2 separate regions of the Homo sapiens genome follow, and region 2 is linked to region 1. Evidence: fine-mapped expression QTL. Tissue or cell type: thyroid. Region 1 holds a variant in brackets; the other region holds the start of a gene. All regions are shown on one strand. Distances are between the middles of the regions.

Region 1 (8,120 bases):
GAAAAGAGTGCTTATGAGGAAGGACGCTCTAGAACCTGGCACAAAAGCCCCTTTCTAGGGAAGATTGGCTTTGGAGAAGTGGGGGGTATCTTGGGTGACAGTGATGGTTCAAGAAATGATGGTATGATATGTGACGGTCATCAGGATGTGACATCAGTCACCTCATTGATAGCAAGGTTCTATTCAGCCGGGTTGGCTAGGTTAAGTCCCCTTCCTCTCCTATACGCACGTGTGGTCCCTATCCCAGAAGCTGTGAGATTGGTCAAAGCAAGTGGTCTTTCCAATTGGAGGAGGTCTACCCTTGGTCAAAGGCATGCGAGTCTGTATGCTCCCCTATTGGAGCACTAGGAGAACTACAGTATTTGAGCCAAACAAACTTTCAAGAAATTTGAAAGTGGCTCAGTAAGTTGTGGGACATACAGGTTGTCCGTTTCTCCATCATACCTCCCTTCTGCTCTTTTCGCTGCTAGAAAAATTCTTCGCAATTAGGAATTCCATCAAGCCCTAAATTCTTTGATGATTCCCTGTAACAGTGTCTCTTGAAGTGTGGGACAGATATTCCTGGTTAAATGCAAGATTTAGGTGGTACTCAGACATGGTGTTAAATAATTTTAAATTACACAGTGAAAAATTTATTTCATTTTAAGTTCCCTTTCAATCCTTCTCCTTCTGACAATGAGGATGTATAAGTGGAAGACCAGTGTAACATTTTCTAATCTCAGTTTTTAGTAAGGAGAAGAGCCTTCAAGCTAAGTGTTCCAATTACAAGCATATCATGCCATAATGTTAATAACATTTTCTTTTAAAAATTTGTGGCAAATTATTTCAGTTTTTAATATATGACAGTGATGTAAAATTTTAATGTTCTGGATGTAAGATGATATTTAGGAATTGTTATTAATTTTTTTAGGTGTGATGATGGCGTTATAGTCATTATCCTTTACAGATACAAATTATATATAGATGGAAAGATATAATGTCTGTGATCTGCTTAAAGTAATTCAGGAAGGGTGTGCTTGTGTGTGTGCTGATGGAGGTGGAGGTAGCGGTGGTGCTTAGGGGAGTACAAAGGAAACAAGATTGGTCATGGGCTGATATTTGCTGTGCTGAGTACATGTAGATTAATTATACTATTGTCTCTATTGTGTATATTTCAAAGTTTTCATAAGGAAATGTTTGAGTTAAAATAAAATTTCAGGCCGGCGCAGTGGCTCACACCTGTAATCCCAGCACTTTGGGAGGCTGAGGCAGGCGGATCACGAGCTTAGGAGATCGAGACCCTCTTGGTCAACATGGTGAAACCCCGTTTCTACTAAAAATACAAAAATTAGCTGGATGTGATGGCGCATGCCTGTAGTCCCAGCTACTCGGGAGGCTGAGGCAGGAGAATCACTTGAACCAGGGAGTCGGAGGTTGCAGTGAGCTGAGATCGCGCCACTGCACTCCAGCCTGGTGACAGCGAGACTCCATCTCAAATCAATCAATCAATCAATCAATAAAATAAAAAATAAAATTTCAATGTTAAATAAGTTGATTAATATGGAACAATAAGTGAGTTCAGAGAAAAACTATTAAGCAAATAAGAATAATATGGGTGGTATGTAGGTAAGTCATTAGTTAAACTACTGAAGTCTGCAAAACACTGGCTGCTGGAAAACATTCAAGCTTCTCATTGAGAAATCAAAGGTCCTTCCTGCTACAGGCCTTTCTCACCTCCTTTCTTGCCACTTTGGATTGCAATAATACCAGGTCACCGGTAGTTCCTAGTGTGCCATCCTCTCACAACCTGCATCTTGATGCAGATGGTTCTGTTTCTTGGAATGTTTCCCAAATGTGTTGTTTAGAAAATTCCTGCATTCTTTAACTCTCAGCCCAAACAATGGAAATTAAAAGAAAGGAACATTCTGAGAACTCTGAAAGAGCTGAAATCATTTGGAGACTAGACATGGCTTGATGCCAGAATAAGAAGGAGCCAAGGGTAACACTTAGGTTTTAACATGGCAACTTTGACAGACTAGCGAGGCTGGAAGGAGAGAGGTGTTCGTGGGTGATCAGTGCTAAATTAAATTTTAGGCATGTTGAGTTTGGCCTGTCCTCCAGGACTCCAAATTATTACTAGCAGCAGAAACTGGGCAGGGGTCATTCCTCTCCAGCCAACTCTTGAGTCCTCAGTAATTACATGACAGAAATGTTATAGAGTCCTTTTGCTCCTCTTTCTCTTTCTTGTCAGTCACATTTTGCGTATTGTTCTGCTGACAATGAGAAAGAGCAAAAGAAGGGAGAGGATGTGAAAAGCAAATCAGTCATTTGTTGCTTTTTAGGAGTGTTGAGAAAGTCTTGGGGGTTGGGAGAGTTAGAAACTGTTGATTTATGCAAATTTTTCCATTATGACTGACTTCTGATTATATTTCCCATCCACTGTTTTATCTGACTTCCAATTGTTGAGAAGTAGCTGTATTAATGTGGCTTCACCACAGCTTGTGAACTGCAAGGACTCACTGGAGACATACTATAGGACCTACTTGGACTCTGTATCCTTCCAAATGAGTTGGTGTCTGGTGAGGAGGAACAATATGATTACAGGATCTGAAGGAGATGGGAGGGGCCCTTTTCTTCAAGCACGGGTTGCCCCATGGGCACAGTGAATAACACTGGTTCTATTTTCATGTTTCTGTGGCAAACAGCAACTTCTGTATTGGTCTGTTAATACTTCAACCATTCTAGTTTGGTTATTTTTGTTTTGTTTTGTTTTGTTTTTGAGACAGAGTCTCCCTCTGTTACCCAGGCTGGAGTGCAGTGGTGCGATCTCGGCCCACTGCAATCTCTGCCTTCTGGGTTCAAGCAATTCTCCTGCCTCAGCCTCCTGAGTAGCTGAGATTACAGGCATGCACCACCATACCTAGTTAATTTTTGTAGTTTTAGTAGAGATGGGGTTTCGCCATGCTGGCCATGCTGGCCATGCTGGTCTCGAACTCCTGACCTCAGGTGATCCGCCTACCTCGGCCTCCTAAAGTGTTAGGATTACAGGCATGAGCCACTGTGCCCGGCCTATTTTGGTTCTCTGAGAAGCAATTTTTATACTGACATGCTGGATAGGAAGGATTTGATCTAAAAATAACATTGTTCTTTCATCATACTGGGACTTCCATTAAGTGAATGACGGTTTAGTTATACCATTGTCCTTTCTAACACCTGTCCTAATATCTCCCCTCCCTTCACTGGCAACAGAAATTAGGTACCAGTTCTACTGAGATGTTTTGCAATTGTCATCATTTTACTTTGTAAGCAAAAAGCATGTTTTTCTTTGTATTTCAAACTAAGGAATGCATGATTACCACTTTGGACCTCCTTGTGAGCATAAGATTTTACACTATTTGCACTGTAATAATTTATGACATTTTTATAGCTTACTGTTAGGGCTTGTACAAAGTAGAAGGAATGAATCTGTAGAGAAAAAAGAAAAAAATGAACACACCAATGTGCTGTAGTTATTCAGTGAAG[T/C]GCAAAATCTTGCAGGAGTTAGTTTTGTTTGAAACAGATTTTACTTCTCAGTACCCACTCTTTCTCAATTTTTACCAACTCAGTCCTTTTGGTGTTGACATTTTGTACTCTGGAGTTTTAAGATGTCATGCTTCATGACTTGTTCTCTGGGAAAGTGTTTCTTCTTGAAATGTCGGGTTGCTCTCATCTTAGGTGGAGTTTGGGGTCAGCCTTTGTTATTATTTTAATTTATAGACTTTTAATAATGAGGGTTGTTTCATTTGTGTTTCACTTAATTCAGCACAAGGTTTTGTAAATAGCCTCAGATTTATTTTAACATGTGAAGAGAGGGAACAAAAAGATTCCTATGGTAAAATTAAACATTTTCTCAAATTGAGGCTGTTGCTTGGTTTCTGTTCTTGTTAACGTGCATTTAAAAAATTATTTTCTGTGAAGCTAGTCTTCATAAAGGTGATTTGTGAATATATGAAAATGCAAGAGATGCACTAAAGTTGCAGTCTCCATGGTATATTTAAATATGCCAACAGCTACCCTAATGAGCAAATTTAGCATTTATCCAAATTGGAAAGCCAACGGGAGATTAGCTATGGCCATGGCTGGAGTCTGTATTCAAATATTCATTTGATATTGGTTGTAACTCCGGTGTATCCTCCTGATGTTGTGGATAGATTTATGCCTGTCAATTGAGGAGAGCATTTCTCACTCTCTGATATGCATCTGAGTCACCCAGGGGAGGTTTTTTGAAGTGAATGTCTCCCAGGCCTTGAGCCCCAGAGATTCTGAGTCAGTCATTCTGGGACAGAGCCCAGTCTTCTGTGTTTTGATTCATCAGAATCACCTGGGGAGCTTTTACAACATACCGATGGCTGGGCTCTATCCCAAAACACTGACTCAGATCCTCTGGGGGTGCAAAGCCTGGGTAATCTGTACTGATTTTCAGAAAAGAATGAAAATACCAAAATTATCTAGCAGAGATGGTCCTTTACAAGCATCATTTAATGTCACAGGATGTGCAGAGCTAGGGATAGGGTTAAGGTAATCTCATTAGGGACCGTGAAAGAATATGAGAATTCTGTCTGTCTTTAGTGAGATTGCCTTGCGATTAGATGATAACAAGGATGATGATGGTGACAATGACAACAACGTGACAGTAAGCTTTATACCAGTCATGCTTTTACTAGCTCTAAATAGAGAACTTTTGTTCTTGTTCTTTATGCATATGTGATTTTAGTTTGCCTAATTAATGTTATTTCAGGGACACCTGCTCTCGTGTTCCTACAATATTTATCATTAAAGAAATGAACAAATTCTCTAGCAATTATGAGGACTTGGAAAGAATAAAAGTACCCTGGGTCGTGTTGGCTAGGCTGACAGAAAATAATACCTGAAATATTTCACCACGTTTTCTCAAGGGCAAATTTACTGTAATGTGAAAAAATTTTTTATCAGTGAGTGTAATTTTACACATGAATTACAGTTCCAGCATTCTATTTTCAATTGCTATGTTTACTGCATCAGAAATGTATAGGGAATTTGTGTTCTCTTTTCCCTCATCTCATTTGTAGAGCCAGAACATGCAAAAATTGGAGTTGGTAAAAGTATTGTGCTAGGAAGATCAGGACTTTAGTTATCATTCTCTGTTTATTGTTTCTAATAAATTGTATTGTATATATTTGAGGTTTACAACACAATGTTATGGGATACATATAGATAGTAAAATAGTCCTGTCATAAAGCAAATTAACATGTCTATCATCTCACATAGTTACTTCTTTTTGTAACAAGAAAAGCTAAAATTTATTTATTAACAAAAATACAATATAATTTTCTTAACTATAGTCCTCATGTCATACATGAGATTCTAGGCTTGTTCATCCTACATATTCTTCTTCTATGTATTAATCTGTGACTTTGGACAAGCTACTTAAAGTCTTAGGGTCTTATTTTCCTCATGTATAAAGTGTTAATAATTTATCTGAAGGCAGGTGACTAGAGCAGTTAAACTCTTGAAGCCCATTCTGCTGCAAGTTCCTGTACTGAGTCTGCGGAAGGCAGAGGTGTGGCTAAGGCAACGTCAAGTGATGTGGGGTGGGCCGGGAGGGAGGGGCTTCAGAGCTCAGGAAGGCTGTATGTGCCTCCTAGCGTCCTTCAACCCTGGCCAACTTCTCCAATCTTGCTCCTGGTTGCTATGGTTTTTCCACATCTTCTGGTTTGTAGATTCATGAATTTATTAAATAATACGTGATAAAGCCTCAGTGGGACTCCTGAGTCATTTGTGAGGGATTAAAGACAATTTTACAGAGTTCTTTGCTGGCTTGGAGAGTTGCAGTGCTCAAAAACATGACTTGTGAAGACACGGATATACACTTATGATTAGGAAGCATTTTAGTAAAACATTCATGACTATTTCCTGCATTTCTATGGAAAAATAAATTCAATCACAGTAGGGTTTTTCACTTCATTGCTTATTAGAATGCATTCTTCTGCCTGGATAATATAAAGATAAAGTTAATGTTTCTTCTGTTTTGCAAAGGTGTTATTGGACCCACAAATATGCTCTGGTCTCTCAAGGAGAAAAAAGCTCCAAGGTTTTCACTCTTTAAATTACTGAAATAAAGGGAAATGATTACATGGTAATATTCCCTCTTGCTGCTTGAGAATTCCACAGAAAACAATAACACAGGATAGATTATTTACTGTGGCAGTTTGTGAAACATAGATTGCTGCTGTACTGCAAATTCTGCTTATCTCTTAAGAGCTGTCTGTACTGGGTGGCTTTAGTTTGTCCCTCCAGATTCACGCTTGGCCCTTCTCCACCCTCCTCTGTCCTGGGAGGCTATGCTGTATGCCTGCGTCTATCACTGTCTTGGTCAGCTTGGGCTGCTATCACAAAATACCAAAGATTCTGTGGCTTAAACATTGACATTTATTTCTCACAGTTCTGGAGGCTGGGAAGTCTAAGATCAAGGTGCCAACAAACTCTGTGTCTAGTGAGGGCCCTCTTTCCGGCTTGCAGAGGCTGCCTTCTCACTATATTCTCACATGGCAGGGAGAGAAAGATATTAGAGATACTGTGGAAGGAGAATGGTAGAACTTGGCATCTGTAAGAAGTCAGGAAAGGAATGGGAGGAATCGAAAATCACCTCCCTGCTCTGCTGGCCTGAGTGATTGGTGCAGAGTAATGGTGTAGAAACAGAAATGGGAACACAGTGAAGAAATCAGAGTTGAGAGAGAAGATGATAAATTCTGACAGAGCATGCATACCATGTCCCACCAGCATTCAAGAGCAGGGATGCATTCTATTTCATTTTTGCACCCCCAGTGCTTCAAATAAGTGCTGGTGTTCTCTATACAAGTGCTGTTGAACTTGCTCCACAGGTAGTCTGTGCAGAAATGGGCACTGTGTTCAGTTAGGGTGAATTTCTGATAAATTGGCTCTGGGTTTTTGATTTTGGGGTCACAGAGAAAGTGTAAAAAGAGTGTGTGATTCTTTGTCTTGCAACACCTCCAGCCATGGTCTGTTTTTGTAACCAGTGACAGCTTCCCTCCTCATAGATAAAGTTGGTATTTTACAGAATATATCAGGCATATACCATTTTCCCATTGAAGGTAGGTGGTCTGAAACTGAGATCTGAGCAGAGCCATCCAGAACCATATTGGCTCATTTAATTATGAGATTTTAAGTTATAGGCTTCATAAGTGAGTTTCCAATCACTTTGCTCTTTAAATTTTCAATCTTTCTCATGCTAGACTTCAGGTTTTCTAAGAAATATCTTTTAGGATTTCCATAGCATAACATAAAATTGGGTTGTAACTTCATATTTGGGGCATATTCTAAGTTACTCTTAGACTGTAAGAAGTATTTCTCTTGTCCGAAGCTAGGGAGATCCAAATAAAAATCTCCTCGGATATTATAAAGGAAGTGGTAGTTAACATACATTATTTCATTTAATCCTCACAGTGACTCAATGAGGTGGCATTACACCACATTTTCTCCGTTTTACAGATCACGAAACCAAGGATTACAGAGATTGATCAATTTGACCAAAACCACACAGTTGAAATGTTACAAAGCTGAAAAAAAGGCAACATATGTGAAGAGGAAATAATGCTACATAAACACTTTCTTTTGGAGTAGTATTTCTAGATTTTACTTCCATTACTTTTTTTTTGTAGGTAGCAGACAATGTATTGGAATATTTTTGTAAAGTTAAAAATTATATACTTTTTTCTACTCTTCAAAATTAAAACTGTAGAGGAATGGAAATAAGTTTTATTCTTGCTTATACACTCTCTTCTCTTTTCATTCCAATTTGCATTTAACTGCAAGATTATTCTTCCTGCTGTGTTTTTTCCATAAAGTCACTCTCCTGTTAAAAAACCATGAGTGATTTCCCATTGCTTATAAAATACAATTCAACTCCCCTATCTGGAGATTCTCAAATTTTTTCTTTTTTATATTCACGGCCTTCTTTGAAATATTGGAATTTTTATCTGCATGCCTGAAGGGATTAAAAGACTCAGAATCACACACAACCAGCCAGTGATCACTACCCACAACCCCTGTTGCAGTAGCGATTGGTCTCACAGCACCCAGGAAAGGAGCCACAGCTTGGCACC
Region 2 (8,120 bases), 32 kb before region 1:
GTTGAAATTACTTAAGACTTTCTCCAAAGAGGTTCAGTGCCTTTCCAAAGAGTTGAGCCTCAAAATTAGTCCTGGGATGCAGCCTGGCACCTGAGGCCAATGAAGAGTGGACTCTGCCCTGTCTTCTCATACAGACACCCAGCCCCTTTGAGCTGAAAGGTAAATTAGCAATGTCTGCCATTGCCTACTATTGAAACAGAAAGGCTGTGTCAGCATTCCAAATGGGGTGGCTGATGACTTGGCAGTTAAATACTCAAAACAACTTCCCTGAAAATGGAATATTAAGAGCATGCTTTTTCTTTCTCAGGTGCCATTTCTTATCACCTGGTTGGCTAGAAGCCAGATGCTTTTAAACACTAACACTGTTTAAATTTCTTGGGGTCAACTCTTTGTAAACAGTGCTGGTGTTTGTACAAAGTAACATTGGCCCTTGACTATAAAAGCTTAAAGATTCTTGGCTTTCCAAGCAGCCAAGTTACTTTTAGCCCAAGGAGATAGGTAAAATATACTAATTTCCCAGAGGGGAAAAAGATCATTTCCCCTTCTTTCAGCATCTTTCAGTGGTAACTTCAAATAGGTGAATAGAAAGATTAGGTGTCTTATTCCTGCCATAAAAAGACGACTAAAGCCCAGATTTTCTGATCCCTTTCTGCTAATTAAAGTACAGAAGACTAGATTCCATGGATTTTATTTTACTAACCCTTCCAAAGTGTATAGACTGATATGGTATTTTCAGACTGCTTATCTTTGAATAAAATTTATACCCAGTGATCATATTTAGTTTTAATGTTATTACTTGGTATAGCTATTCTAGCATCAGACACAAGGACTGTAAGTGATCATCCCATGAACTACTTTACAAATGATTTGGCTTTTTTTAAAAAAAAAAAAAACCACAACACGTGAATACCTAATTGTATACTCAATTAGTATAAATAGCTAATCTGATTTGATCAGATGATCAAAATCCATATGGCTCATATATCAAAACTCATCTGGGATCACAGATAGATACCCTCTGCTTGATGCATTAAAAAATTCCTGAAGAGCGCACAAAAAACAAATTTTGTTTTATAACAAATCGAATTATAATTTACAACTACTAGAGAAACTGGCTATGTGAAGGGCTATCATGATAAACTATTTTATGAATCAAATAATGACCTTCAATCTTCATTTATTAAGTTGTGTCTTTTCTTTATTCTTTCAGAATAGATTTGAGGCATACATTGCAACTCATAGTTTGTAAATTTGAATATTTGGGTTTGTGAAAACTGGTAGACTAAACATGCAAACATAAAAATGCTTTAAAAGTTATCCTTCCTTCCGCCGGGCACGGTGGCTCATGCCTGTAGTCCCAGCACTTTGGTGAATCACCTGAGGTCAGGAGTTCGAGACCAGTCTGGCCAACATGGTGAAACCCCATCTCTACTAAAAATACAAAAAAATTAGCTGGGCGTGGTGTCGGGTGCCTGTAGTCCTAATTACTCCGGAGGCTGAGGCATGAGAATCACTTGAACCCGGGAGGCGGAGGTTGCAGTGAGCCGAGATTGCACCATTGCACTCCAGCCTGGGTGACAGAGTGAGACTTTGTCTCAAAAAAAAAAAAAAATTATCCTTTCTTCAAAATAATTTCTGTAAATTGTTAATAACGTCTAAAATGACTATTGAAAGATTAAAACATCTTTTATCATATATGCCAAGAGTGTTCATGACTAGCAGAAATTTACCTTTGACTGTTTATCAATTTATAATTGTAGGATTTCAGTTCCTTCCATTAAAAGTGTGGCCTAGATTATAGCACTTGCTGGCATTTACTATTTTGGTCATCCTATTACAGATGATTATAGAGAGATTTGTAAGTGCTTTGCTATTTTAAAATTTATTTCCAGGTCAGTCTGAAAATTTTTACTTTTTCAAAAGAAAACATAGACTCTTGCGGGTATGTTTACATTGTAGTATTTAAATTTATGCTGAATTTACTGTTTATATGAATGATCAGATCCAGTTAAATACATTTTTATCTACTTCTATGGAGATTTATGAAAATAAAGCAAAAGCAGGAAGAAGGTAATGACTTACACGGTAATTGTTATTTATAATTTAAGTACATTAATTATGGCAAGATAAGTTATAAGCAATGGGAAAAACCACTTGTTTTTAAGTCTGCATATGTGTGTGTGTATGTATGTGTATACATATATATTCCTGTTACATCAGAAGGTTTTTGCTTGAATTGTTTCCTAATTTCTCTCTTACTGATATATATATTAATGTGCTATGGATTATGATGGCTATTATCAAAATATATAATATATGTAATATTGGAAAATTTATCTTTCATAGAAACTTCAAACAAAAGTGACATTTAAAATTATATGTGATGAACACATTTTACCATGTGCAATACATGCATTTGATATAATTTTGCCACAGAAATAATAAAACTAACAAAAGTGTGCTGAATATTATTTCACGTGGGGGGGGGTGTAAAGGCATAACGCTTTCATTTTTGCTTTATATGGCTAGCTCCCCATCACTGCACTAGTGTTGGTTTTTCCTTTTAGTTCCTTTTGACCTTTTAGCTCTTTCCACCCTTCCATCTTTCCTAGCCCAGAAAACAGGTGTAGGAGGAAATTGGTTTCTTTATGAACTCTCCTTCCAGCCACAATAATCTCAGATTGACTCCACTCTCAAGATCCCGTGCTAAGCTTTGTGTTTGGATGAAAACCCAAAACATATTGTAAAATTTAATATTGCGTTTTCATATGCTTAAACCTAATTTACCTTTTAGAAAAAAAATTTGCATATTTCTTCCTTCTTAAGGGCCCACACACAATGTGGAAAATGCTTGGAGGCAGGATGGTGTGATAGGTTCTCTGGAGGTTTCTGAGAGGGGCATTGAAGTCGACTTTTGTTTCTCTTTTTTTCTTCTCCCTAAGCTTTAGTAATATGAAACCTGGCAGGGATGTCTTAAGCCAGCTCTGCACGGAAGGTGGACCTAAATTGCCTCTAAGCTGATGAGCTGACCCTCCCCTCCACTAACCCTCCACCTCCACCTTTTCATTTCTGAGATGAAACTTTGAAAATTATTATTATTATTATTATTATTATTATTATTATTATTATTATTTGCAGGAAGCTGTGTCTGCAGACTATGAACAGAGGAATCGTCTCCACTGCTCACTGACCCTAACCCATTGGGTCTCTGGCTAAAGCAGAAGAGTCCCACACCTGAGGGGAGGGTGTTCGCTCTGAACACACAGCTTCAAGGATGTTCTGCTCTAATGGAAAGGCTCTAGACTGTAGCTAAGACTTTCACTCGTCCAGATATTTACAGTTTGAAGGACTTCCCTCCTGATATTTTTGGCAATAAAGGAGAAAATCATTTCTCCTCAGAGCATTTGAAATTGGAAAAATAAACGTGCTGTGTGCAGCTGAATCTTCTAAGCCTTTGACATTTTTCAGTGGCAGGATGGAGGGTCCGTATGGACAGTCAGACTTGAGCGCTTGAACACTTACAGTCTTTGCGTCTGCAAAACCTGGATAATCACTCCATATACCACCTGCCGGGAACTAATTTTCTTGTCATTTCATAAAAAAAGATTCCCAGTCTTCTAGACAAGTTGCAAGGACTGACTAACGCGGGGGAATGCTTGCATATCAGCAGACCAGAGGTGGTGTAGACGCCAAGCGTGGACCGAGTCCCGGGGCGCCCCAGAAGTGTCTTCTCCCCGAGCGACAGAGTTAATGCCTCGCATTAACAGCTATGAGTCCCTCTTGGGTTTCTCCCACTCCCAACACCCTTCTCTGAGCCCCTGGCCACCGTCGCCTTCTCCTCTCGCGCCCCACTGACCAAACATCCCTTTCATCAGGTGGGGTTGGGGTGTCTAGTTTTCGGGAAGGATCGCGCAAGGGTTAATGATGAAAGCTGGCGACCAGGTGGGGCGCCCACACCCGCCCCCGGCCACGGTGGGCGTCGGAGGTGAGGGGGCGCTATTCGGGCAGCAGTGCTCCGGGTGGCGCGCGGGAGAGCTGCCAGGCTGACGGAGAGGCCGGCCCGAGTGGGGGCCGCTCCGCCGCCGCCGCCGCCGCCGCCGCTGTGATGCGGAGCCGGTGCTGCGCCGGGCGGTGGAGTCAGAGCCCGGGCGCGGGAGCAGGAGCTGCAAGATCAGCACCAGCGGCTCCGGCACCTGCACCAGCTCCCGGGCCCCGCGCTGCGCTCTCCGCCCCGCCGCACTCGGGGCCGTCGCCCCGCGCTCTCTATGGATGTCAAGGCGGCCCCCAACGGGGTGGCCACTATCGAGGACCGGATCCTGCGGATCACCGGCTACTATGGCTATTATCCAGGTTACTCCAGCCAGAAAAGTAAGACGCCGCGCGGCTGCCCTGCGCGAGGCGGGGAAGGGAGGTGGGCGCGCAGGGGTGCCGCGGGGATGCGGACGGGCGGGCGCGCGGTACGGACACCTGCAGCCCTGCGGACGCTGTCAACACCGCCTTCCTGGCGGCGGGGACCCCCCGGGGAGAAAAGTATGTCCGCTGTCCTCGGTGCTGAACCGTGAGAGGGCAAGGGGCCCGGCTGGGTGCGCCCAGGAGTTTGGAAACAGTCGTAGCCTTGGGGGGAGGTGCGGAGGGGACCTGGTGAGCGCTCCTGACCGCCGTTGGCCGGCTCACCCTGGTGGATTTACGCCCGGAGGAGGCTAACATGGCTGTTCACTTAGCGGAAAGTCAGCCCTAGGGGATACATGCCCCGAAAGCCCCTACTGCGTGCGGGGCGCTGGGGACGCAGGCTGGGGAGGCTCGGGGGTGGGGCTGGCGGGGGCGGCCGACCCAGACGTGGGTCCCGGCGCTGGTGGGGTCAGCTCGTTCACTCCGGGCTGTTGAGACGCTGCCAGCGCGGGAGTTACTCCGGTTACAGTATCTTTAGGAGGTTCTTCACCCTGGGAAGAGAAAAGAACCTGCTCAGGTCTCCGAGCCCCAGAGCTTGGAGCCAGAGACCCGTGCAAAAGACTGGGGGCGTGGGGGGGGGGGGTCTGAGAAGGGGAGGCGACAGGGCCACCCGCCCCCGCCGCACGTCGCGGTCACCGCTTTCTTCCAGCTAAGCGAGGTCATGCGGCGTGGATGCTTTCACGTTTTTGGACCAGTTTTGGTGGGAGGGCGATGAGGTGTGCTCTGCTCGCAGTCCCCCTCCCCCAGTACACAAACCCACTAGCTATATTTGCTGGGATTAGTTCTACTGGCGACTGAAGTGCAGCTCATTTTTCTTCGAATTGGAGGAGTAGCTGCGGTTTAGTTTCTATGCAGGTGGGCTTTCGCTTTTTTCTTTATCAATGCATTTCTGTTGCAACAGATGAAGCTTAATTGATGTTTTTGCCGTTATTGTTGTCAGAAGCTTGGAAGCTCCTAGATGCATTTCTGATACGTATTTTTCTATGACATTTGGGGTGCAATCAACATTACAGTTTCTGTGATGCGTGGGACCCACAAAAATTCCGGCACAAAGACAAGAAAACACTATTTTTTCATGTAACTTTCTCCCCTACCATGCTTCCTCTCTATTGAATAATAATTCAAGAGCTTTGTTCCATGGGCTGTTCTCACACAGATATTTTCTAGTTCGATATTTCATCTGGTTTCAGGAAAGGCCTATCTGATTTGGATGGTTTCTGTCTAGCTGTTTTTAGCATTAGGGGCTTAAATTATTCATTTTCCATACAAAAGTAATTATATAGTGTTAGAATTTTCTGGAAAGAAAATAACACACTGTGGAATGCCCTTTGAAGTACTATACACTCAAAAACTTCTCCTTTTTTATTGGCAAAGGATTTCTTTTTTAACCCTGGAAACATAAGTAAAGGAACTAATATATCTTGTGGAAATTACTTGACTTTCACCTTTGAATATTTTAATTAGGAACCATGGGATTTTAGTGGCTTAGAGAATGTAGAAGCTGTGTGTGAAATTACAAGACTCAGGGTGGTTTATTATTGTAATTTTTATGACAATGGAACTTTGGCTAACAATGAACAACCCAAAAAGAATACTGAAAAAGTGACATTTTAGATAAGAACATGTTCATATTATATTTTTGTACTTGCTCAAATAGCTGCACATGCTTCATTTGCAACACAATAACAGGACAAAAAAAGGGAAGAGCACTGGCCAAGGCTATAACTGGTAGCCAAAAGGGATAAAGATTAACTTGGCATGGTTATTTGTGATGGGCACTTACCTACCTAAGTTCAGACCGTAGAGTTAAAAGAGTGAAGGCAGAGAATCTCACAAGAAGAGAGAATTAAGTGATAGTCAGATAAATCTCAGGATGCTCATGCTTTCGGAAGTAGAGAAAGATTGCTATTTTGCACAGTGAGAGATTGAGAGAGGAGAAAGCTGGAGGAGGGCCAGGGAACCGAGCACCATGAAATAATCCTGTCCTAATGCAGGCTTCAACTAGTAAACAAACACACTGAAGCAAACCAGTACAATATGGTCAATTGATTTGGCTGTTACAGGGAATGAGCAACAGCTTAGGGGAAGTCTGGAAAAATATACTTAAGAAAAGGCTACAGTGATGAATATATAATATGTGAAAGCAAGGTGACTTTCTCATTTCCTGTCTGATCACATATGAAGGACAATCTCTAGATATCTATGCCATTTACCTTTTTGGAGATAGACGGGGACTTACCTCTAAGAAAATGCACTGAAGATCAAGCCTTCTGTTAATGCATCCTGCTGTTTGCTTGTACCTTGTTCAGAAAAAATTCTAGTAGTCAGGCTGATGCAAAAAAAGAAACATGATAGAATTCAGATAAATGAAGGTACTTTAATGGGCAATAGGGCATTTGTTTTATTTATCCTGTTCAATTAATGAACAGTTATTGAGTAAATATAAATAAGAAATCTGGATACAAAGATGATTAAAGGTGGGTGCAGTGGCTCATGTCTGTAATCCTAGCACTTTGGGAGGCCAAGGCAGGAGGATTGCTTGAGGCCGGGAGTTCAAGACCAACTTGACCAATGTAGTGAGACACTGTTTCTATATTTATTTAAACATTTTTTTTAAAAAAGATGATTAATGCATAGTGTGGTTACTTAGGTAGGGAATAGATTCATTCATTCAACAAGTGTTAATTGAGCACCTCCTATGTGTCAGGAGTACACCAATGAGCAAAACAGACAAAAGTATTTTCCTTTTAAGAACTTAAGTTCTAGTGGGAGCAAACAAGACAATAAAGAAATAAACAAGTACATAAATTATTTAGTATGTTTCAAGGTGATAAGTGCCTTTTGAAAAATTACAACAGGATAAAAAGGATAAAATATTCTGGGGGTAGAAATTATCACAATTTTAAATAGGCTCATCAGGGAAGTCCTCACTGAGGAAGTAACAATTCAGCAAAGACCTGAAGGATATGAGGGAGTTAGCCATATGGACATCCAGAAGAACACATTCTGGGCAGTGGGAATAGCTAGCGCAAAGATCTGAGGTAGAGTACAACTAGCATGCTGGAGAAACAGCAGGGAGGCCTGTATGGCTGAAGTGGAGTGAACAATTGGGAAAGTGGTTGGAGATGAGGTCACTGAGGATCCAGGAGTGCAGATAAAGGAGGGCCTTAGAGGTCATTGTCAATCCTTTGGCTTGTATTCTGAATGAAATGAGCATTTGAAGAGTTTTGGGAGAAGAGTGATGTGACTTATCTTACACAAAGATCAGTCTCACTGCTGTACTGGGACAGGGTGAAAACACCTAATTAGTATGTTATTGTGATAACGTAGGTGAGACATGATGGTGGCTTGAACCAGAGTTGTAGCACTAGAAGAAGAGAAAGGTGGTCAGAGTCTGCATATATTTGAAATTAGAGCCAATAGGGTACCCTGATAGATTGGATATGGTATCTGTAAGAAAGATAGGAGTAAAAAATGACTGCATCTTTTCTGGTTTGACTAAGTTTGAGTTGCCATCAGCTGAAGTGTGGAAGGTTTCAAGGTAGAGAAACTTTGGAAAGGGGTGGGGGGTGGATTGTCAGGGGATAAGGATAACGTTTTAGAGATACTAAATGTAATTGGAGATGTAGAGTAAGCTTAGAGTTCAGAGTAGATGTCTGATTGGAGATATA

Direction of the effects. Alleles are on the strand shown, and positions count from the first base shown. SD is a standard deviation of normalised expression in the study named.
For the expression in thyroid of the gene that starts at base 3,999 in region 2, allele T in region 1 goes with a lower level than allele C (large effect, 1.0 SD a copy in GTEx).

The links. PIP is the estimated chance that this variant, and not a neighbour inherited with it, causes the effect.
Region 2: it holds the start of SLC35F4, and the variant in region 1 is fine-mapped to the expression of SLC35F4 in thyroid (GTEx, PIP above 0.99).

Annotation. Positions count from the first base shown.
Region 1 is chr14:57,829,667-57,837,786 of GRCh38, reverse strand. The region is part of intron 1 of SLC35F4 (solute carrier family 35 member F4); the gene reads left to right. It also overlaps the pseudogene RN7SKP99. Among named protein-coding and RNA genes, the nearest start is that of SLC35F4, 32 kb to the left of the region's middle. The variant T/C (reference allele first, on the strand shown) is at 3,502.
Region 2 is chr14:57,861,971-57,870,090 of GRCh38, reverse strand. It overlaps SLC35F4 (solute carrier family 35 member F4), which reads left to right and starts at 3,999. Exons shown (of 8, transcript NM_001306087.2): 1 at 3,999-4,368. The coding sequence starts at 4,266.